2 separate regions of the Homo sapiens genome follow, and region 2 is linked to region 1. The links come from fine-mapping of genetic effects on gene expression. Tissue or cell type: whole blood. Region 1 holds a variant in brackets; the other region holds the start of a gene. All regions are shown on one strand. Distances are from middle to middle. Region 1 has its middle 6.3 kb from the start of STOML3. Region 2 holds the start of NHLRC3 (NHL repeat containing 3).

Region 1 (11,481 bases):
ATAATTTTTTGGCTTGTGTCTGTTTCTTCTTCTAGACCAAGAATTGACAAACTTTAGCTTGCCAGCTAAATTTAATTTACCACTTGTTTTTAAAACATAAAGTGTTATTGGAACACAGTATGTCCTTTTGTTGCTTTCTTTTTTTTTTTTTTTTTTTTGAGATAGGATTTCACTCTGTTGCCCAGGCTGGAGTGCAGTGGCACAATCACAGCTCACTGCAATCTCGACCTGCCAGGCTCAAGCAATCTTCCTACCTCAGCCTCTTCAACAGCTGGGACTCCAGGTGCACACCACCATACCTGGCTAATTTTTAATTTTTTTTTTTTTTAGAGATGGGGCCTCACTATATTGCCCAGGCTGGTCTCAAACTCTGGGCTCAAATGATCCTTCAGCCTTGGTCTCCCAAACTGCTGGGATTGTAGATATGAGCCACCATGCCCAGCTCTTTCATTTTTGTATTGTCTGTGCTCACTTTTGCACTGCACCCGTGGATTTGAGTAGTTGTGACACAGACCATACAAGCTGTAAGGCCTAAAATATTTACTGTTTGTCCCTTCACAAAAAAAGTTTGCTGACCCCTGCCTTGCACTATACATTTCCATGAGGAGAGTGACTTGGTCTAACATTTCCATTGCATCTGCAACAATTAGAACAACGTGGGCACATGATTGATGTTCAACAATACTTGCTGAATGAATGAATATATAAATCACAAATGAAAACAGCTCTCAAATGGCAAAGCTCTTTCTCAAATCCAGATCCTTAGGATCCTGTACTAGGATTCCTTCTTTCATCAGACCACATAGAACCACAGACAATTTTGTGGTTATTCCAATACTAAGAACACCAATTTTCTAATTTTCTGATGTTCATTTCTCTCATATCAATATCCCAAATATATCTTGTTTTTCTTTTGTATACCATTATATTTATTGTATGGCATTTATTATATTATATTGTATTATTTTGTGAAAACAGTAGAAAAAATCTCTAATCTCTCCCTGGCCTTCTTGTCTTTTCTGGTTTTTCTTCTGCCAACCACCTAGTTATTTCCTTCTTTGCAACTTCATCTTAAAACTTTTCTCAGATTCCAGCCTGGGCAACATGGTAAAACCCCATCTCTACTAAAAATACAAAAATTAACCAGGCATGGTGGCATGCACCTATAGTCCTAGCTACACTGGAGGTTGAAGTGGGAAGATTGATTGAGCTTGGGAAGCAGAGGTTACAGTGAGTCAAGATGGCTCCACTGCACTCCAGCCTGGGTGACACAGCGAGACCCCAACTCAAAAAAGAAAAAAACAAAAGTAAAAAATTTTCCAGGTTATGGGTTATTTATACCAACTACTTGATAATCTTGATTGCCTTTTCCACAAACTCAAATTGTGGAAATAACTACTATGGCTGTCATCCACAGTTTGTAATTACAATAATTAATACAGAGTTTTAGAAATTTAGGAAAGGAGACAAGAACACAGATTAAAACAGACATGCATAATGTGTGCAGAGTCAGCAACTGTCTGCTCTAGGATAGTTTTCTCTGCACCTCCCTTAAACATCCTCGCTTACAGCTCCAAGTAGAAATGTTGCTGGAGGCACAGTGGGCAGGAGAGAAGGCTCTGGGCTCATACTGCCCAGATACAAAGAAAACTTTGCTCTGTCATGAACTAGTGTGTGACATTGGGTAAGCTATTTAACCTCTGTGTTTTATTTTTCTCATCTGTAAAATGGGGATGGTAATATAATATTTACCAAAGAGAGTTGCCTGTATGAGAATCTTATGAAAATTACATGTAAAATATTCAGAATAATGACTAACATTAATAAATGGTAACTATTATTACCATGAATGGAAGCTGGGCTGTATTTCTAAGGACTGAGTTAACTTCTCTCTACAATGGCAAGATTGGGCTAATTTTCACAATGTCTCCCTTGTCCCCTAATTTCAAGTGAAAGGAAGACTGATAGAGATTGATTTGGTATGTCCATACATTTATCAACTCTCTTCTCTCTCTGATCTAATGCTACCTTAAAAACTCGAGGCCCATTCCTGGTCTGTATTGTCATATAATTGCCATCCCGTTTCTTCCGGCCTCTACTTTATCACCATGTCATCATCACTTTGTAACTAACCTCTCATGGAAAGAGCAACAGAAAAACTTCCTGTTTCCATCATTTCTCCCGACTTAAGCCAAAGACAATCTTTGCCTGGAACTGAAAGCCCCTTTCCCTTTGAGTCAGATGCTTCTCCATAGTCATACAGCAAAGTGTTCTGGAGGTGCTAGTTTAGCTTATTTCTAAATACATTTTCTCTTAATATTAGCCAAATACCATTTATGCTAGCACTGCCAGTCACTGAGGTGGAAGGTTCAAAGCAACAGAAACAATAATTATTCCCTGGGAGCCACTACAAAGAGCCTCAAGAGTGCTTGCTATGGTCCATCCCTTTGGAAGATGACTAAGCAACTGTTTTTCTTTTTCCTAAAGAAAGTTTCAAATGTCTCAGCCTAGAAAGCAAGAAGGGTTTCAGCAAGCAATGAACACCTATGACAAACTGAATCCTCATAGCAGGGCCTCAGGAAATGAAACATGAGCTCATTTTCAAGTTTCCTACTTCTTTTTCTGTAAAATATAAATTAGCCCAGTGGATGAATTATTATCATCTGTGGATGTTCTTTCACTTATCCTGGGAAAGGAGGATACGGGAATTTCTGGAAGATGCTTCGGATGAAGACTTTTCAGTGTTTCTGCATTTTCATTTTATCAATTTCTGCACTAGTGAAAGTACTGAGATGAGGACAGCTTTTTATTTTATTTATTTATTTATTTTTTTTGAGATGGAGTCTCTCTGTCACGCAGCCTGGAGTGCAGTGGTGCAATCTCGGCTCACTGCAACCTCCGCTCCCCCTGTGCCAGGGGTCAAGCGATTCTCTGATGCCTCAGCCTCCCAAGTAGCTGGGATTACAGTCATGTGCCACCACGCCCAGCTAAGTTTTGTGTTTTTAGTAGAGATGGGGTTTTGCCATGTTGCCCAGGCTCATCTTGAACTCCAGGCCTCAAGCGATCCACCCAACTCAGCCTTCCAAAGTGCTGGGATTACAGGCATGAGCCAATGACCCTGGCTGAAGACAGCTATGTTTTTAAAAGGCCTAATTCTATTCCCACTCTTGACATACAGGACATGTGTCCTTAAGTATGTATATATTTTTTTCCCTGAATGTTCACCTTATAGCACAAACCCTCTCTTGAGACAATCCTTTCTAAACTTCCACCTATTTCCTTTCCTAAGCTTCTGGTTTCAGACATCACCCACCATCCTTTCTTGCTAAGATGTATCCAGGTGTTCCAGGACAGTGGCTGCTCTCTTAAGAAAACATGCCCTTTTCTTTAAATTGAAATTCTCTGATCTCTTTAACTTTTTTACGAATATACATCATACATTCTAACTTATCCATTCTCATTTATTCCATTCTTGAATTCCCACTTTTTTTTTTCTTTTTTTTTTTTGAGATGGAGTCTCACGCTCTGTCACCTAGGCTGGAGTGCAGTGGCCCAAACTCGGCTCACTGCAACCTCTGCCTTCCTGGTTCAAGCAATTCCCCTGCCTCAGCCTCCCAAGTAGCTGGGATTACAGATGCACGCCGCCACGCCCGGCTAATTTTTATGTATTTTTAGTAGACACGGGGTTTCACCATGTTGGCCAGACTGGTCTCGAACTCCTGACCTCAGGCAATCCACCCACCTCGGCCTCCCAAAGTGCTGGGATTACAGGCGTGAGCCGCGCCCTGCCGAATTCTCACATTTTAAAATGAGAAATTCGGTCTCCAAATCTGTAAAGATATTTATAGTGATAACTCCCCAAGCTGCAAATCTGGCTTATACCTCTCTTCAGAATAATAAATATTTTTAACTATCGGCTGACGAAACATCTCTACCTGGACGTCCCCCAATTAAATATTCTATACGTTAGAACGAAATCTATTGAATTAAGGCGTTTGTATTATGGAATACTGTTGATATATTTAACATGTATGTATTTATTGAATAAAGTAAACAACCATCAATATACCACACAACAGCACCACTAGAATATTACCAATACCATTGAAACTACTTGCATATTCCTCCTGGGTCTCATCCTCACCTCTCTAAAACCGTAATTTATAATTTTGTTGATTATTCTCTTGCTTTTAAAATAGAACCTTTTAAATTATATATTTACATTTCTAAAACACTTATGATTTAGTTTTGCTTTTGCCTTTTTAAAAAATACCCATGTAGGCTGGGGGCGGTGGCTCATGCCTGTAATCCCACCACTTTGGGAGGCCGAGGCGGGTGGATCACGAGGTCAGGAGATCGAGACCATCCTGGCCAACATGGTGAAACCTCGTCTCTACTAAAAATACAGGAATTAGCTGGGCATGGTGGCGTGTGCCTGTAATCCCAGCTACTCAGGAGGCTGAGGCAGGAGAATCACTTGAACCGGGGAGTCAGAGGTTGCAGTGAGCCAAGATTTTGCCACTGCACTCCAGCCTGGCAACAGAGTGAGACTCCATCTCAAAAAAAAAAAAAAAAAAAAAACTCATGAGTGCTCTGCAATTTCCTTTGACATTCCATATTATGTTGCAGGAAGCTATTGCTCTTTAATTTTTAGTGCTATTTAAGACATAGAAGTGTAAACGGGCCACAGTTCACTTATTTATTTGGATACTTTTAGGTTTTCATTATTACAAATGATACTATCATGAATGTTTTGTACATATCTTCTGGTTGTGTATACATGCAAGAGTTTCTCTAAGGCCCTAAAATCCAGATATATACATCTTGAGATGAAACTGTTATATTTTATGTTCAACTTTACAAGATTATTGTAAACAACTTTGTAAAAATATTTTCCAAAGTAGTTTATGTCAATTTAATCTTACTAGTCGTGTACAAGTATTCCTTTTGTTCCAAATCATTGATGGCACTTGTTCATACTTGACTATCTGGTCAGTGTAAAATAGCATTTCATTATAATCTGACTTTAGATTTCTCGGAGTTTTAATAAGGCAGAACAAGTTACACATGGTTATTTACAATTTGTGTTTTCTCCTTTGTGAGTTGCACATACATGCCCTTTGCTCCTATTTTGGGCTTCTTCTTGCAAATTTAATAAGTAGTCTTTATATATACTTGCTATATACATGTCGAGTACTTCTTATCCAAAATGCATAGGACTTAGAAGTGTTTCAGATTTTGGATTTTAGAATATTTGCGTATACATGAGATATCTTGGGGGTTGGCACCCAAATCTAAGCATTCAATTCATTTATGTTTCATATACGCCTTATACACGTAGCCCGAAGGCAACTTTGTACAAGACTTAATAATTTTATATGGAACAAAGTTTGTGTACATTGAACTCATGTGGACAGTCTGTGGTTTTTTGGCATGATCATCATTCTTGACTGAATTTCTACGCTACCAATAAGCAATCATTTTCTTATGCTTATTCACACATAAGTACTTAACAATAAAAGCTATGACACCCCGTTAACACAGTGAAAAAATAATGTGTGTAGCAGCACAGCAGCATCACCAGAATACCTGGCTCAGCTGTTAAACAGCAGCAACAACAAGCAAACAACGGCAGGCTTTCAGCCTCTAGCTATGATGCTGTGTTTGTGTTTCGATTAAAAGGCTACAATAGACTGTATTTTATTTTTTTTAGGTGGGAAGAAACATCAGAAGCATGGGCCCTCTAGGGATGAGGAGACAT[A/C]CTGCTGGAAGGCCTTTTAAACGATTTCCTCCAGAGTCATCTGCCTCATTAACAACAGTTTTTGTCTTAGATGTCTCTCTTGGATTTTATAAACTTACATTATTTCCTGTTCTGTTATAAATGCATGCTGCTCTACTCCTTCACTAAGCCCATCACACATTTTCATCATGTTGTCTAGAGGCACTTTTTTGCAGTATTAACATCATCTTCATCATCACTAATATCACGATCACCTTGATTCAAAATCATTTTGGCTATTTCACAATCCACCAATGAATAAACAACTGGAGCCTCATTATTGAAGGTACAAACTTCTTTAATATCAATTTCTTCCCGTTTATTGATAGACTCTGAAATAATTTTTTTTGCATATATAAGGAGGTCAGACTTTTTTTTTTCTCATTTGACATGTGGAATCCTTCGAAGTCTCCATCTTGTTCGTCACCTTCATTGAATGTAGTCACAGGCCAGAGGCTGTGCCAGGCGTGTACCACTGTGGCCTTAGTTCTGTGTTTCAAGAGAACACAACAGCATATATGGTACCTGTCATGACAAAACCACGTTGAAAACCTTCCACACGCATAGCCTCCATTCACTGCTGCTAGCATACTGGTCAAGAAAGTGTTCTCACTTTCACTCTTCGTTTATCTAAGAATGCTCTGGTCACATAGCTAATGAGTTAATGAAGTCACATTTTGGGGAAAGTACATGACATAAACATTTTTGATGAGAATTTCATTTGGAGAATGAGCAGAATAGCTATCAAGGAATAAAAAATTCTTGTGGTCATCATCCAGCCTAGCTTCCTTGCAGTGAGCAAGAGCTGCTGATATAAAATGTCTGTGAAGCCAGTCAGAAAAGCAGTCCCTGATTGTCCATGACTTTTTTTTTTTTGTCAGAATAATGGACAGGTAAGAAATTAATTTCTTGGAAACAGCCAGGGATGCAGGCTTTTGCCTATCACAGCAAGTGTACCCTTATGTGTGTCTGCTGCATTAGCACATCTCAGCACAGATATTCTGTCCTTGGCATCCTTAATGCCTGTAGGGGCTGCCTCATCAGCTGTAGTCAGTGTCTTTCCAGGGCAGTAAGGACAAAACAGTGATGTTCATCAGCAGCATAGACTTGTTTTGGCATCAGATTTTGATCGGTGATGACCCTGACAAATTCATTAATGAATTTCTTCACTGACCTGTGACCAGTAGATGCCTTATCACCACAAAGGTTTAAAAATGCAATGCCATGTCTTGTGTTAAATTTCTGCAACCAGCCTGTCGCGTATTCATGGTTCCCGTTAATTTTCAGTTTATCATGATCAATCTTTGCTTGTTTCATGATCAGCATACCATTAAGCAACATATGTTTACTGTAACACTGATGAATCAACTCTTCCAATACACAATTGAGATCTTCATTTTTAGCTGTATGTAGTGTTTTTCTATTTTTGATTCACTTCTGTTCATCACTTTTAGCATAGAACTTCAACAGTTTATCCTTCTGTTTCTGCAGGCCATATATGGTGGTCATTCCAATGACATACTCTTCTGAAAGATATACCACACTTATGCCACTGTCCAGTTCCTCCAACAGCTTGGTTTTCTATCAAACTATAGATAAACATAAGTGCTTCCTTATTTTCTTATTACTTATAAGGGTGTCTACAGGTCTTTTTGACATTTTCATGGTATCTTTACACCACAGAGCAGAGAATAAGTGAGTCATGTCCACAGGACTTGGCTTCATGTGGGGCATGATAGAGAGCCTGCCTTCAGTGTGTCTGGCCTGCACATGTGCTATTTTTATCACCCTTTGTGGGGGTATGTTTGAGTGGGGACTCAGGATGCACGGAAAAGATAACGTCGTAGCTGAAAAAGGCTGGGAAGGTCTTTTTCCCCTTGCAGATGCTGAATAAACTGCATTGTGTGCCTGGATTCTGACTGTGACCTGTCCATGAGACCAGGTGTGAAAGAGTGCACTTGTGGTGTCATGTTGGTGCTCAAAGTTTTGGATTTTGGAGTGTTTCAGATTTCAGATTTTCTGATTTTTGGATTAGGGATATTCAACATGTATATAAATATATGCACACCTACACAATGTGTGGGCGTGTATATACACTTTATACATTATATGTACTTATGAATATTTGATACTTGACAGCACATAAGTGGCAAATATATTTTTCCAGTTGTCACTTATTTTTTCACCTTTTTAATGATGTGTTTGATATCAAATATATAAAATTTCAATATATTTAATGCTTGGTGTGCCTTGTTTAAAAATCCTTCCCTTCCTAAGGTCTTGAAGACTGAAATATCAAGCCTTGATAATTAGTGGAGAAAGTCCTTCTACTTTATTCATTCTCTTCAGAAGAATTTTGGCTATTTTTCACCCTCTGGTCACCCATACATTTTAGAATAAGTTCATAAAACTTATTTAAAACGTTGGGATTTTGATTGGAATGGTGTGAAATTTGGAGACTGAGAGATTTTATATTCTAAGGCTATGATTCATAAATATGATCACTGTGTATTCTCCATTTAAGTAGGTTTTCTTTTTTTTTTTTTTTCTTGAGATGGAGTCTTGCTCTGTTGCCCAGGCTGGAGTGCAATGGCGCAATCTCGGCTCACTGCAAGCTCCGCCTCCTGGGTTCCCACCATTCTCCTGCCTCAGCCTCCCAAGTAGCTGGGACTACAGGTCCCTGCCACCATGCCCAGCTAATTTTTTTTTTGTATTTTTTTAGTAGAGACGGGGTTTCACCGTGTTAGCCAAGATGGTCTAGATCTCCTGACCTTGTGATCCGCCTGCCTCAGCCTCCCAAAGTGCTGGCATTACAGGCGTGAGCCACTGCACCTGGCCTAAGTAGGTTTTCTTTAATGATGCTTATGAAGTTTAAAAACAAATTCACCGTAAAATTATTACTCATCTTTTGTAGGATTTGTTACTAGGTGACATGTCACCATTTTCTTCTTTTGAAAAGAGCATACTAGCCAGGCATGGTGGCTCATGCCTGTAATCTCAGCACTTTGGGAGGACAAGGTGGGTGGATTGCCTGAGCCCAGGATTTCAAGACTAGCCTGGGCAACATGGCAAAACCATTTCTCTACAAAAAATACAAAAATAAATAAATAAATAAAATCAGTCAGCCATGGTGGTGTGCACCTGTAGTGCCAGCTACTCAAGAGGCTGAGGTGGGAAGATTACCTGACCCAGGGAGGTCCAGGCTGCAGTGAGCTGTGATCACTTCACTACACTCCAGCCTAGGTGACAGAGGGAGACTCTGCCTCAAAAAAGAAAAACCAAAACTAAAAGAAAAGAGCATGCTATTGATACTGTTGCTCATGTTTGAAAATGCAACTGACCTTTGAATATAATGAATCTGAATCTCACTAAGCTTTATTAATTCAAATAATTTGTCACCTCTGAATATTGTCTGCTTTATATATCTTCCTTTCCAATCCTTACACTTTTTACTTTTTTTGTACCTTACTACACTTGCTACGATGTCTGATACAATGCTGAATTACTTTCCTTGATTGACATCTGCTTTTAAAGGGGTATTTCTAGCATTTCATAGTTAAAAATAAAGTATGCCATAAATACTATCATAGATTTCTTTTACTTGGAAGGTTTTTTTTTTATTATACTTTAAGTTTTAGGGTACATGTGCACATTGTGCAGGTTAGTTACATATGTATACATGTGCCATGCTGGTGCGCTGCACCCACTAACTCGTCATCTAGCCTTAGGTATATCTCCCAATGCTATCCCTCCCCCCTCCCCCGACCCCACCACAGTCCCCAGAGTGTGGTATTCCCCTTCATGTGTCCATGTGATCTCATTGTTCAATTCCCACCTATGAGTGAGAATATACGGTGTTTGGTTTTTTGTTCTTGCGATAGTTTACTGAGAATGATGATTTCCAATTTCATCCATGTCCCTACAAAGGATATGAACTCATCATTTTTTATGGCTGCATAGTATTCCATGGTGTATATGTGCCACATTTTCTTAATCCAGTCTATCATTGTTGGACATTTGGGTTGGTTCCAAGTCTTTGCTACTGTGAATAATGCTGCAATAAACATACGTGTGCATGTGTCTTTATAGCAGCATGATTTATAGTCATTTGGGTATATACCCAGTAATGGGATGGCTGGGTCAAATGGTATTTCTAGTTCTAGATCCCTGAGGAATCGCCACACTGACTTCCACAATGGTTGAACTAGTTTACAGTCCCACCAACATTGTAAAAGTGTTCCTATTTCTCCACATCCTCTCCAGCACCTGTTGTTTCCTGACTTTTTAATGATTGCCATTCTAACTGGTGTGAGATGATATCTCATAGTGGTTTTGATTTGCATTTCTCTGATGGCCAGTGATGATGAGCATTTTTTCATGTGTTTTTTGGCTGCATAAATGTCTTCTTTTGAGAAGTGTCTGTTCATGTCCTTCGCCCACTTTTTGATGGGGTTGTTTGTTTTTTTCTTGTAAATTTGTTTGAGTTCATTGTGGATTCTGGATATTAGCCCTTTGTCAGATGAGTAGGTTGCGAAAATTTTCTCCCATGTTGTAGGTTGCCTGTTCACTCTGATGGTAGTTTCTTTTGCTGTGCAGAAACTCTTTAGTTTAATTAGATCCCATTTGTCAATTTTGGCTTTTGTTGCCATTGCTTTTGGTGTTTTGGACATGAAGTCCTTGCTTTTGGTGTTTTGGACATGAAGTCCTTGCCCATGCCTATGTCCTGAATGGTAATGCCTAGGTTTTCTTCTAGGGTTTTTATGGTTTTAGGTCTAACGTTTAAATCTTTAATCCATCTTGAATTGATTTTTGTATAAGGTGTAAGGAAGGGATCCAGTTTCAGCTTTCTACATATGGCTAGCCAGTTTTCCCAGCACCATTTGTTAAATAGGGAATCCTTTCCCCATTGCTTGTTTTTCTCAGGTTTGTCAAAGATCAGATAGTTGTAGGTATGCGGCATTATTTCTGAGGGCTCTGTTCTGTTCCATTGATCTATATCTCTGTTTTGGTACCAGTACCATGCTGTTTTGGTTACTGTAGCCTTGTAGTGTATAGTTTGAAGTCAGGTAGTGTGATGCCTCCAGCTTTGTTCTTTTGGCTTAGGATTGACTTGGCAATGCGGGCTCTTTTTTGGTTCCATATGAACTTTAAAGTAGTTTTTTCCAATTCTGTGAAGAAAGTCATTGGTAGCTTGATGGGGATGGCATTGAATCTGTAAATTACCTTGGGCAGTATGGCCATTTTCACGATATTGATTCTTCCTACCCATGAGCATGGAATGTTCTTCCATTTGTTTGTATCCTCTTTTATTTCCTTGAGCAGTGGTTTGTAGTTCTCCTTGAAGAGGTCCTTCACATCCCTTGTAAGTTGGATTCCTAGGTATTTTATTCTCTTTGAAGCAATTGTGAATGGGAGTTCACTCATGATTTGGTTCTCTGTTTGTCTGTTGTTGGTGTATAAGAATGCTTGTGATTTTTGTACATTGATTTTGTATCCTGAGACTGCTGAAGTTGCTTCTCAGCTTAAGGAGATTTTGGGCTGAGACGATGGGGTTTTCTAGATAAACAATCATGTCGTCTGCAAACAGGGACAATTTGACTTCCTCTTTTCCTAATTGAATACCCTTTATTTCTTTCTCCTGCCTGATTGCCCTGGCCAGAACTTCCAACACTATGTTGAATAGGAGTGGTGAGAGAGGGCAT
Region 2 (11,481 bases), 41 kb after region 1:
TTAAGAGTCAACATGAATTACTCCAGCAGCCCCTAAATGATACATCATTTGAGAGCTCAGAGTGTGCAGCTCAGATTAGCTCCCACCACCACCTAAGAACTTCAAACAAATGAGGGAAGCATTATGAGATAGCCAGTAAGAGGGGAGCACAGGGCATAAAGATCAGGACACTGAAGTCTCAGCATGATCACCACCACCCTGTTTGACTGCCTCCAAAGATGCTCCAAAAGGGGAAAAAAGTGATACAAGAAGACAGTTCCTGAAAATACGCTAAGGTTCCAATTATTCTATACAGCAAGGTCAATGGTGCAAACTGGAGTGGTATGTAAAGAGAGTAAAAATAATTTTTACTCCTTATAAAGAGATATATATATATAGCAAATAAGTATTATGTATACTTTCCAGTTAATTTGATAAACGTCTATGTCCTTAACTTTGATGGGAATAATGTTCTTAATATCTAATAAATGCTATATTTTAACCAACCATAAAATTTTACAAGCCACCATATCTAAGATACAAAGAAAAATCTTTAATACAATAAGCTCATTTAGAAAGTGGCTTAATAAACTTTGTAATGACTTTAGCAAAGTGGAAGCATCATTAAGGGTGGTACATCACATACACCCAAGAAAAAAAATGCTATTAGCTGTAAGAAATTATATATCTTTTTAAAACATTTAATTTTTTTTTTTTTTTTGAGACAGAGTTTTGCTCTGTTAGCCAGGCTGGAGCGCAATGGCGCGATCTTGGCTCACTGCAAGCTCTGCCTCCTGGGTTCAAGCAATTCTCCAGCCTCAGCCTCCTGAACAGCTGGGATTACAGGCACCCGCCATCATGCCCGGCTCATTTTTGTATTTTTGTAGAGATGGGGTTTTGCCATGTTGGCCAGTCTGGTCTTGAACTCCTGACCTCAAGTGATCCGCCTGCCTTGGCCTCCCAAAGTGCTGGGACTACAGGTGTGAGCCACTGCACCCAGCCAAAACATTTAAATTTTTAAAAGAGCATAAAGTAACTTTGTAAAGCAATGGGAAAGCTGAAAAACTGACATAAAGACAACAAATGCAAATCATAAAGTAGCTTTTAAGAATTTAGTGGGCAGAACTTCTATAGGCTTAAAAGTCATTTAAGGTTTCAAGTTTTGAAGTTCTTGAGAAACCAATGAAAAGCTGGACCATTTACTAACTCAATTGGAGCATTTACTAACTCAATATATACATTTATTGTCCATCCTTTCCCCAAGCTGTTCTCCAGACATTTCTATTAATATTTATGCCTGACTTCTCTATCAAGAATTTTCCAACTATCCCTCAGAAACATGCCCCCTTGTGTGTGTGACACACATATATTTTAATTAGCAAACTGCCCCTAAGGTGGAATGAAGTTTTCACTAAACTATCATGCTTAAAATGTTAGTATTCTGGCAGTTACAGAAACTACTTATTAAATAACACTGTGTATTTTTCTTACTGTTGAAATTTTTATTTAGTGGCTTCATATAAAAACATATTTCATTATTTGTTCACATTTTCTTTTATATTACATGACGAATTTTGTAATTGTCTTACATGTAACTATAAAAATTTGGGTAAATTTGCCATTACGAGTCTCTAAATCTTTGATATTGTGCCCAGAACCATAAACACTTTGAATTGCTTTAAGACCCTATATTTAAAATCATTTTAAAACATGAATTGGGGTGAAAGTGGAGAGGTGCTTAGTCCCTGAATTATAAATTCTGTAGAGTTTTCTGCCAAAACTGAGAGCTTCTCGAGTTCTTGAATAAATACAGCAAAAAGGTAAAACCAATTCTGAATTCGGCCAGCAGACAGACATTAACCAGAACATTGGTATAAAAAGAAAGCTTTGTTTAAACAAATAATGAGGAATACCTGTTCACTAGAAAAGTATCCATGCACATATTCAATTGCTTTTAATTTGTATTCTGTCAAAACAGCCTAAAAAAAAAAAACACACACACACAGAGTAAAACAGCATTAATATACGTAAGCAGCACAGTAATATACATCTATCAAAACTGCCCAAGCAACTCAACAGTGGCAGGTCTACTTCAGCCCTGTCATTCAGAGGAACTAAGGTCACTGTGGTGAGAGGCCCTTCCTTCCATCTTTCCAGGTTCCATACTGTGAGGGACACACTGAGCAAGCAGGAAGATCTGCTGGGCTTCCCTACCAACTTCTACAAAGAAAGGGAATAAAATTGTAATAGATATGATTCAACATCAGTATACACAACATTTAGAATTCCTAAATATGTAATTAAAGAGTTTCAAAACATTCCAAATCCAAATTGTCATTTTTAAGATTAAACATATCAGATGTTACTCATTCATCAATTATTGAATATCTACTATGTGCTAAGTGACAGAGAAGCAAGAATAAGACAAGGTCTAGTTGAGGCTCTCAGTATTTCTATAGGGACATAAGAATGCAAGAAGTCCTGAATTCAATGTCTGTGCCTGCCACTAACTGGCAGTGTAGACTTTGAGAGGCATTTTAATTCCTTTTGAGCGTCCTCATTCATAGAGGGAACACCATTCACCAACCTCAAAGAATTACTATGAAGACTATAATAGTGGACATTAGATGTGACATATAACAGGTATTCAGTAAGTGATGGTTCCTTTCCTTTTCGGAATCTATCAGTGGGTGAGAGAGAAGTTGGTGGCTTTGATGCAGCACTATCTAGAGCCCACTAAATCACACATGCTCCCCTTGCAGCTATTTGCTCAGCTTAGAGATGGAAACAGCTATCTTAAGTCAGTAGCCACTAATCATTAAAAATGAACTAATCCCTTTGCTTGTACTATAAAATAATTTTAATATTCATATTTTTCACATATATCATTCTGCTAGGAGAAAGTATTATGACCAGTCAACTGAAATATCCTGGGTGCTCAGTAGTTCAATATTCACTGAAAAGGGAGAAAATGGCATTCTAAATAATGTATTCCTAGGAGTTTTATTATCAATGTAATAATCGGACACAGTCAAATACAAGTTTCTGAACAAAGTCTTGGATTGTACTGATGCCAAGTCATATCTCAATTCTTCCATCAATGCCTGAGAGGCCCAGCTGTAACCCCAGGCAGGACAGCATGGTGCTCTGCAAGCATAGTTTGAATACTGCCCCCAGCCCCCAACTTACCACCTAGGGAGTCTTGAGCTGATAGTTAACCTCACAGAGAATAGGCCACCAGCTATAAGCAAGAAGTACAGTGCCTACACCTCATGCGTTGTAAGGAGAATCAAAACAAATAATGACTGGAGAAAGTGCTTAAAAACAGGCTCACAAAGTAAGTGCTCACTAATTAATAGCTATCATTCCCTCCTTTTTGAATAATCAGTTAACCATTGCTTTTTCCCCCTTTCTACTCCCTTTCCCAGTTCTTCTGCTAGTGGCTTCTTATATGCCTCTGTTTTAAATGACAGTAGTGACAATCAGTATTATCTATCATATAAACTCACTGTGATACTCAAGAGATGACCTGGTTTAAACTGACTTACATTTACAAAGAACGATTTTTAAGAAAATCAGTAGTAATGCTCATATTTAGATATGCCAATATTTTATTCCATTTTAATAGACCATGACAATGTTGATGTGTCTAATCACTCGGCAAAGCCAGCAGAAGATATATTTTAACTGCTGACCAGAAATACAGACTTAAGTTGCCATCTCATGTGAACAACACTTTCATATCTGGAAAATTTCCTATTCCCCTCTTTAGAATTTACTGTGACGTTTTTATGACACCAGGAAGAGAATATGCACACTGAGACCCTGTATCTTCCAAAAGTAAAAATCTGCTGGTCTACTTGGACTCACCAATTATTTTCTCATGAAAAGTAATTAAAAATCAGCCCAAGAACAAATTGTGACAAATTTCTAGGCATATAATTAGCAAACCAATATTTTATTTCAAAAATTAATTGGACACTTAGGTTTGCAAAAGCAGAACTTGTTCAAAAAAGAATGTTCAGTATTATCAAATATGAAAACTTAAACACGTCAATTTGAAAAAAGAAAAAAGCTGTATAAAAACAAAGCAAAACAGCAAGACCAGAGACAATTTTAATAATAGCTTTGTAAACTGAAATAAGCACCAGAGCACATGGCAACAATTTCTTCCGTTTCAGTCAAGGGTCGTAAAGGTATGCAGCTGACGAAAGAATAATTGCCCGGAAGGCCGAAGGAAAGCACCGTGTGTTGATGTAACAATGGTACATCAAGTCCTTACATTTTAAAATAAGTAACTTCTCGGTATTTTTGTGCTTGAGATATTGTTAGGCTCAAGACTACCTTCCAGAATTGTTGCTGTCTGGTTCACTCTGGGAAATGCGATCCACACAACAGCCTCAAAAAGCAGCAAAAACTTGGAAAGCAGGAGAAAAAAGTTTTGAAGCTCAAGTTATTGACGGCCAATTCCTAAGAACGTGACTTTAAACTTAATGCCACACTTACCATCAGGACACGAATTTTGCATGGCCAACGCAACAAATATACTCTACCTTATGCTTAGATTTGAAAACCCCATCATAATAACTACCATAAAAGAAACTTTCTGCGTATTACCTCTCGTTTTCAGTCACTCTTGTGTTACTGAAAGATGAGGCAATAAACTCAAAAATATTAAACCCCTTACCCAAAAAGTACAGAGCTATTACGGATTTGTAAAGCCGGCTTTGGAACCGAGGGCTTTACAAATGTAATTCCCACGACACCGTGCTGAGTCTCAAATTTGGCGTTAACGTAACTTAATTTCTATTTGTACTGGAAACGTATCAAGATATAAACTCCTCCATTACACGTGAAAATTCAAACCAATTTGGCAATCCTAGGACCCTTATTCTGCACAATCTCCATACAGTACCTCAAAGAGAGTCTAAAACACGAGAATTCATCTCATAAAATAATTCATGGAATCGGTCTAATTACCTTTCTAATTTCATCCAGCACCATTTCAAAGGACTTTTTATCCATCTTGACTACTATCCCGACGTGGTTTTAACAGTTATACTTGCAATTAAAAGACGTTCATCCCTGGTCTGCTCCGCCGATAGTAAAAAATATTTATAGCTGAGGAGGAAAAAGACTCCACGAGCAAGAGAGGATGCGAAGAGGTAGAGAGTATTGCAAACTTCGCAAAAAAAATTTCTAAAAATTGAGATTCAGAAAAACTCTTTTTATTAAAAAGAAAAAACACTCCAGTCAGGCTTCCCCAGCTTATTCACACAATGGTTCAGGGCACCTCGGGCAAGAGCCAGGTCCTCTGAGTTTTGCAGAAAAACCCGGGCTCGGCGGCAGGTTTGAGTGCGGTTTCCCTGCAGCTGAGGGCCAGGTGCCGCCAGAGGTAGCTCTTGAAGGCGCTTTCCCAGGTGGAGCGGCCGGCAGAGTAGAAACACCTGCGCTCAGAGTCCACGGGCGGCGGGGAGGGAGGCGCCGGTCTCTCGACCCGCACCTGCGCCTCGGCCGCCGGCCGCGACCCTCACCGCCGCGAACCCGGACGCATGGTCCGGCTCGCGCTCATCCCCAGCCGCTCCGCCCGACTCCTGGATACCTCGGCCCCGGCAGCAGGCGGCCCGGCAGGCTCTTTGTTACCAGCTGCTGCAGCTTCCGGGAGCGGGCCGGCGGCTGGGGAGCACCAGGAGCCGGGCGAAGAGGGGCACGGCCTCGCATAGGGGGACTCCGGAAAAACGCAGCCCCAACAGCGCCAGACGCCCTGCCTGGTTACCCCTACAGCCCCCACCAGCTCATGGGGACCTACAATAAAGCCAGTCGCGCCCAAGTAAACTCAACACTGCGCCGCCAGCTTGGGCCCCTCTTTCCTGAAAGCCAGAGGTGGGGTCCTGGTGTGGGAATATAGGCATCCATAGCGGATGCCTGGATGGTAGGAATAGGATGTGGCAAAAATCCTTCCCGAAGCCTAGCGGTCATTATTTTGAATGTCATCCCCACCATACCTCGTGTCTGAGTGTGCGATGTTTTGATTTTGCCCTCTGGATTAAAAAGAATAAATGGCGAGCGATTAAGGCATATCTACGGGCGCCCATACTTTGGTGGCCACTGAAAGTCAGCGGCGCGGACTGCCCTGAGGGCGGGAAAGGGTGGTCACTGGGTCAGCCCGAAGCACCTGACATGAGGGCGGGGACCCCGAAATGCACACGAAGTCCGGAACTGGTCTTCTGTGATTTTCATTCGCCCTGGTCTCTGTTCCCTTTCGTACTCAAAGCTCGTGCATCCAGGGAGGGGAAACCGGAGATAGGGTCTTCGGGCCCCGGGCAGACCCTCTGTGCCGCTGCAAACCGTTGCAGCCTGAGGCTGTCAGGTCCTCCCCCAGACACCTGCGGACCCTCCCTCTCCTGGCTTCCCGTCTGGTCATGGCGAGATTCTGGGTCTGCGTAGCCGGTGCTGGCTTCTTTCTTGCATTTTTGGTTTTGCATTCGCGTTTTTGTGGCTCTCCAGTGAGTTGGGTAGTGAGGAAATGACTGTCGGGTGTGCGGGTAGCCCTGTTGGGAGGCGTCGCCACGGTCGTGGCATGGAGGTGGCAGGCCCTGGTTCCCTCAGTAGCTTGTCTCAAAGCCTGCACCTGGGTCCAAACTGCCTTGACCCTTTGAGTTTAAAAATTTGTGTATGTTACATCGCCATTTTCCTCTTTCCCAACTCTTACTACATCCTCAAATAATTTGCAGACTTGTATTGTGGTCGTGTTGGTCTTTAGGCATCTAAGCTCATTTCTTTGGAATTATTTCAGTCCAGCAAACTTCTAGTTGTCAAGGCATGCTTAAAAATAAGCCCTGTTACCCGGCCCCCCCGCCCTTTTTTTGTTCTTACCTAGACGGTAAACTAAATCTGAATTGTCTGATTTTGTTTAAGGTTTTGAGGAACTTTACTTTTGCAGTTTCCTGGAGAACTGAGAAAATTCTTTACCGGCTGGATGTGGGTTGGCCTAAGCACCCAGAATATTTTACCGGAACAACATTTTGTGTTGCAGTTGACTCCCTCAATGGATTGGTTTACATAGGTCAAGTAAGTAAATAGAGATTTAAAAAAATTATGAACACAAAGGAAGTAACAGCCTTCCTGTCTTGCTGTAGTAACTGACCATATGCGTTTATATCATGCTAATTGTGCAATTTATTTTTGAGTTGGTCTCAAGTATTTTGGTTTCGAATGTGAAAGATATGTTAGATTTTGAAAGTGGTTTTTGTAGTAAAATTCTCAGTTATTTTTTTTCTTCGCCAAGATACAGATTACCTTTCCTTTAAGCTGATCCTAAGAAGTTATTTTTTGTATACCTTCAGAGAGGGGATAACATCCCAAAGATATTAGTGTTCACAGAGGATGGATATTTCCTACGAGCCTGGAATTATACAGTTGACACACCTCATGGTATATTTGCAGCCAGTACTCTATATGAACAATCCGTCTGGATCACGGATGTAGGAAGTGGTATGTATAGTAATATCTATTAAATTATCTTACTGGAAATCACATCTTTGCACATGTCCTTGTTTGTATTGTTTAAAATCAGAGTTGCTGAATCTAATTGTAATTTCTTTAACGATTCATGAAATCACATGTTTTTAACAAACTTTATTTTGTACTTCTGTGGAATTAAGAAATTTAACAAGGGCTGGACGCCGTGGCTCACGCCTGTAATCCCAGCACTTTGGGAGGCCGAGGCGGGCGGATCACGAGGTCAGGAGATCGAGACGATCCTGGCCAACACGGTGAAACCCCCGTCTCCACTAAAAATACAAAAAAAAAAAAAAAAAATCAGCCAGGCGTGGTGGCGGGCGCCTTTAGTCGCAGCTACTGGGGAGGCTGAGGCAGGAGAATGGCGTGAACCCGGGAGGCGGAGCTTGCAGTGAGCCGAGATCGCGCCACTGCACTCCAGCCTGGGTGACACAGCGACACTCTGTCTCAAAAAAAAAAAAAAAAAGAAAGAAATTTGACAAGGAGCCTGTTAATATGATCTTTCCTTGAACTTGTCTAGGGTCTTTTCCTCTTTAAAGCATCAGTTGCTCTTCTCAGATTAAATAACTCTAAACTGAAGCCAAATAAAGTGGCAGTCTCTGAAAGCAATGACTGGAATCCTTGACTCTTATTTTCCTTTTCCAGTTTTCTTTCATAAAAGATTGTGAAATCGTAACTGCTTTGTTGCTCAAAGTGCAAAGATTGCAGAAACTGTTGTTAATGTTTTTGAAATTCTACTGACTGAAGCATGTCTGAAATCTTCCTGCCATCAAATATTTTTAGTAGAAAAAGCTGAAAAATGAAGTGAGCACAACTGAATGTGCAGCTATGGAGAAAGTTTTCAGAGAAACAATTCACCTGTGGCTGTAGCTTAAGACAAGGCAATACCTGAGATATCCTGGCATTACCCTAGGAATTCAGGAAGAAATGGGATTATAAAGACATTATTTCTAGTATTCCTTGGCCCAGTTATGTTCTTGAATTGAGAGACATCCTGGTTCTACAGTCCTGGCTGATTCAGATACCATTTTTTAGAGATAATGAGTTCTCAGTTTCTGTAAGTAGTGCCATTATCACAGCTGTTCTCAGAACCCATAAGATTTCTGGGCCTCAGCTGATGGCCCATTTATTTCATGCTGTGTTTTACATAGTATGAATCTGGTTCAACCAAAAAAAGTCTATAGATTATCACTGAGTGAATTGTTAATACTATAATGAGAGTCTATTTTCACTTTTTTCCTGAAGATCCACTGTTAAAGACCATTTCTTTGAGTTCATTTTATTCATGTGATTTTTAAAAATAAGACTTCCTTGATTCCCAGAAATAAAAAGAGCACAGACGATCTCTTCATTTTTTCCATTACAGCTAATTTTCTACCCAGAGATCTGAAGACAGTTTTATATTCCCATTTCCCAAAGGAATAAATTTCCTCTAATGAAAAATATGGCTACAAATTAGCCTTTTTTTTTTGAGAAAATTTTTTATTGGTAGTCTTTTTTGCTAGTTTTTAGAAACTTGGAGGCTTATGTGTTTTTTATTGCTATGAACTTTAGCTCAACTGTCTAAAAGTGTAATAGTAAATAAATTATTTAACATAGAATTGTAATGCAAGCTGATTCACTTTCTTTCTGGTAAGCTCAATGTATCCAGTTTGTCTTTTGAATACCTATCAATTAATTTGGCATATGTACCTTCAAATTGATTTCTGTTCACTGCTTTATGATATTCCCTTATTAGTAGTCTGCTTTATGCTCTTGCTTGTAAGATAATTTTAACTTAAAGAAATTTTAACGTGAGAAAATAAGATACTCATGATTTACAAAGATTATTTTCTTCTTAGCAAAGAAAAGTTGGGTTGAATTTTGAATGTCTCCACAAGGTGAAAATGCAGTTAAAAAAAAAATCTGTACCATAGAGAACGTTTTTGTTGACTTACTGAAATTTAAGGTCTGTATGTGAGTGATTGAAATAACAGTTTCAAATATAAGTTGTTCCCTTTACATTTTCTTCTTGATTTCCTTTCATAAGCAATGCTTATTCAAGGTCATAAGATTAAAAAAGAAAATGGTGCACCAATACTTTGTTAGCATTCTGAGTTTCCTGTATAATGAGTCAATTATGGGGATGTTATTTATTTGAATTTAGAATCCGCTTATTTTGGACTAATGGAGATTTTAATTCGTGATCAAATTTGGCTGTAATTTACGAAGAAGCTATAGTGCTTGTCAATTATATGTAATTTCCTAAGCCTATCACCTATTTGTTATTATTTACTTCTATCAAATTTTTGCTCTTAGCTTACTTGAAAAATCTGAATGTTTGTATAGTGGTTTTATTTGTGAGATGTACATATCTATCTTTATAGGATTCTTTGGTCATACTGTTAAAAAATACAGTTCTTTTGGTGATCTTGTTCAAGTCTTGGGTACTCCAGGCAAAAAAGGCACTAGTTTGAATCCTTTGCAGTTTGATAACCCAGCAGAATTATATGTAGAGGACACAGGAGATATTTACATTGTGGATGGAGATGGAGGATTGAATAACAGATTGATCAAACTGTCCCAAGGTACATTACTTGTTTATGGTATTATAAAAATATTATAAATTGATTTTAATTTGTTCGATATTTGGTATAATGTTTTAAGTGTTGTGTATGAAGCGGTGTGTAAAGAGCTAAGTGTATTACTACGAGAAAACTGAAAAACAGATGGGTATGATTGCCCACAATAAATGATCCTGATAACAGGCCCACTTATTCTTCACCAAAGGCCAGGAGATTCCTCCAAAAGTAACTGGCAACAGTATGAGAATTTCTAGTGGGCTCAGGAGATAAGTGTGTATCCTATTTAATTAAGCATGTAGAAATTAGAAACCTAGAATCCCAGACTCAAGTATCCTACAGGCTGATTAATCAGCAAGCATTTTATTGAGTGCCCTTTCTGTGTCCTCTCTAGTATCAGGAGGTGCAGATCTATTATGTATTGAAACAATGAAATGTAGTCTATGCTATTGATTCTTAAAGCAAAATGGACTTAGGAGGAGAAACTAAATTGCCTGGAGAAATAGAACAAGATATCATGAAGGAAGTAGTTATTGAACTAAACTAGTTTTGGTGGGAGGAGAGGGGAGGATGGATGGAACATTCATGGAGGGTTTATCATGCATGGTCTACAGGCATTTATTAGCAGGAAAGAAGGTGAAGATGCACTTTTTCAGCAGCAGAAAATACAATTTGGGATGTTTCTGAAGTCTTATTTGAGGATTATTAAAGCCATGTTTTTGCCTATAACATTTTTGAGGTTTTCCTAGTAGAAAAGTGATGTTACAACAGCAGGTTTTATAAGACATTCTTTTAGGATCTACTTCAAGTGAGCTCTGTCATTTGGAGGCTGTGTAGTCAATTTATCAATTAGTAACTGAATTTGGTTGATAACAGTTGAAAGGGAAATGTAGAATAAGGATAAAGCAAGAATCCAAAAAATTGAATGAAAGAAACAACGAAATCTAGGAGACAGATTGAATATAAGTGTATTAGTTTCCTGTGGTTGCCATAACAAATTGCCACAAACTGCGTGGCTTTAAACAACATAAATTTATTCTCACAGTTTTGGAATCCAGAAGTTAGAAATCTGGTAGACTGTGCTCACTCTAAAGGTCCTGCCTTGCCGCTTCTAGTTTCTGGTGGCTCAAGCATTCCTTGGCTTGTGGCAGCAAAACTCTGATGTCTGTCTCCATATTCACATGGCGGCCCCTTCTTCTCTGTGTGTTTTTGTGCCTCCAGTCTTTCCCTTCTTTCTCTTAATAAGGATTTAGGGCCCACCCTAAATCCAGGATGATCTCATGAGATCCCTAATTTAATTTTATCTGCAAAAACTATTTCCAAATAGCATCACATTCCCAGGTATCAGGAGTTAGGACTTGGACATCTTTTTAAAGGACCACAGTTGAACCCACCGTAGTGCGTAATAAAGGAGATAGAC

The links.
Region 2: NHLRC3 starts here. The variant in region 1 is fine-mapped to the expression of NHLRC3 in whole blood (TOPMed, PIP above 0.99).

Annotation. Positions count from the first base shown.
Region 1 is chr13:38,991,430-39,002,910 of GRCh38, forward strand. No RefSeq gene overlaps it. Among named protein-coding and RNA genes, the nearest start is that of STOML3, 6.3 kb to the left of the region's middle. The variant A/C (reference allele first, on the strand shown) is at 5,762.
Region 2 is chr13:39,032,239-39,043,719 of GRCh38, forward strand. NHLRC3 (NHL repeat containing 3) reads left to right here and starts at 6,218. Exons shown (of 7, transcript NM_001012754.4): 1 at 6,218-6,485; 2 at 6,898-7,050; 3 at 7,326-7,473; 4 at 9,867-10,067. The coding sequence starts at 6,402. PROSER1 (proline and serine rich 1) reads right to left here and starts at 5,851. Exons shown (of 13, transcript NM_025138.5): 1 at 4,960-5,851; 2 at 1,893-1,958. The coding sequence starts at 5,004. RefSeq lists an enhancer at 4,080-4,189 and a silencer at 5,332-5,561.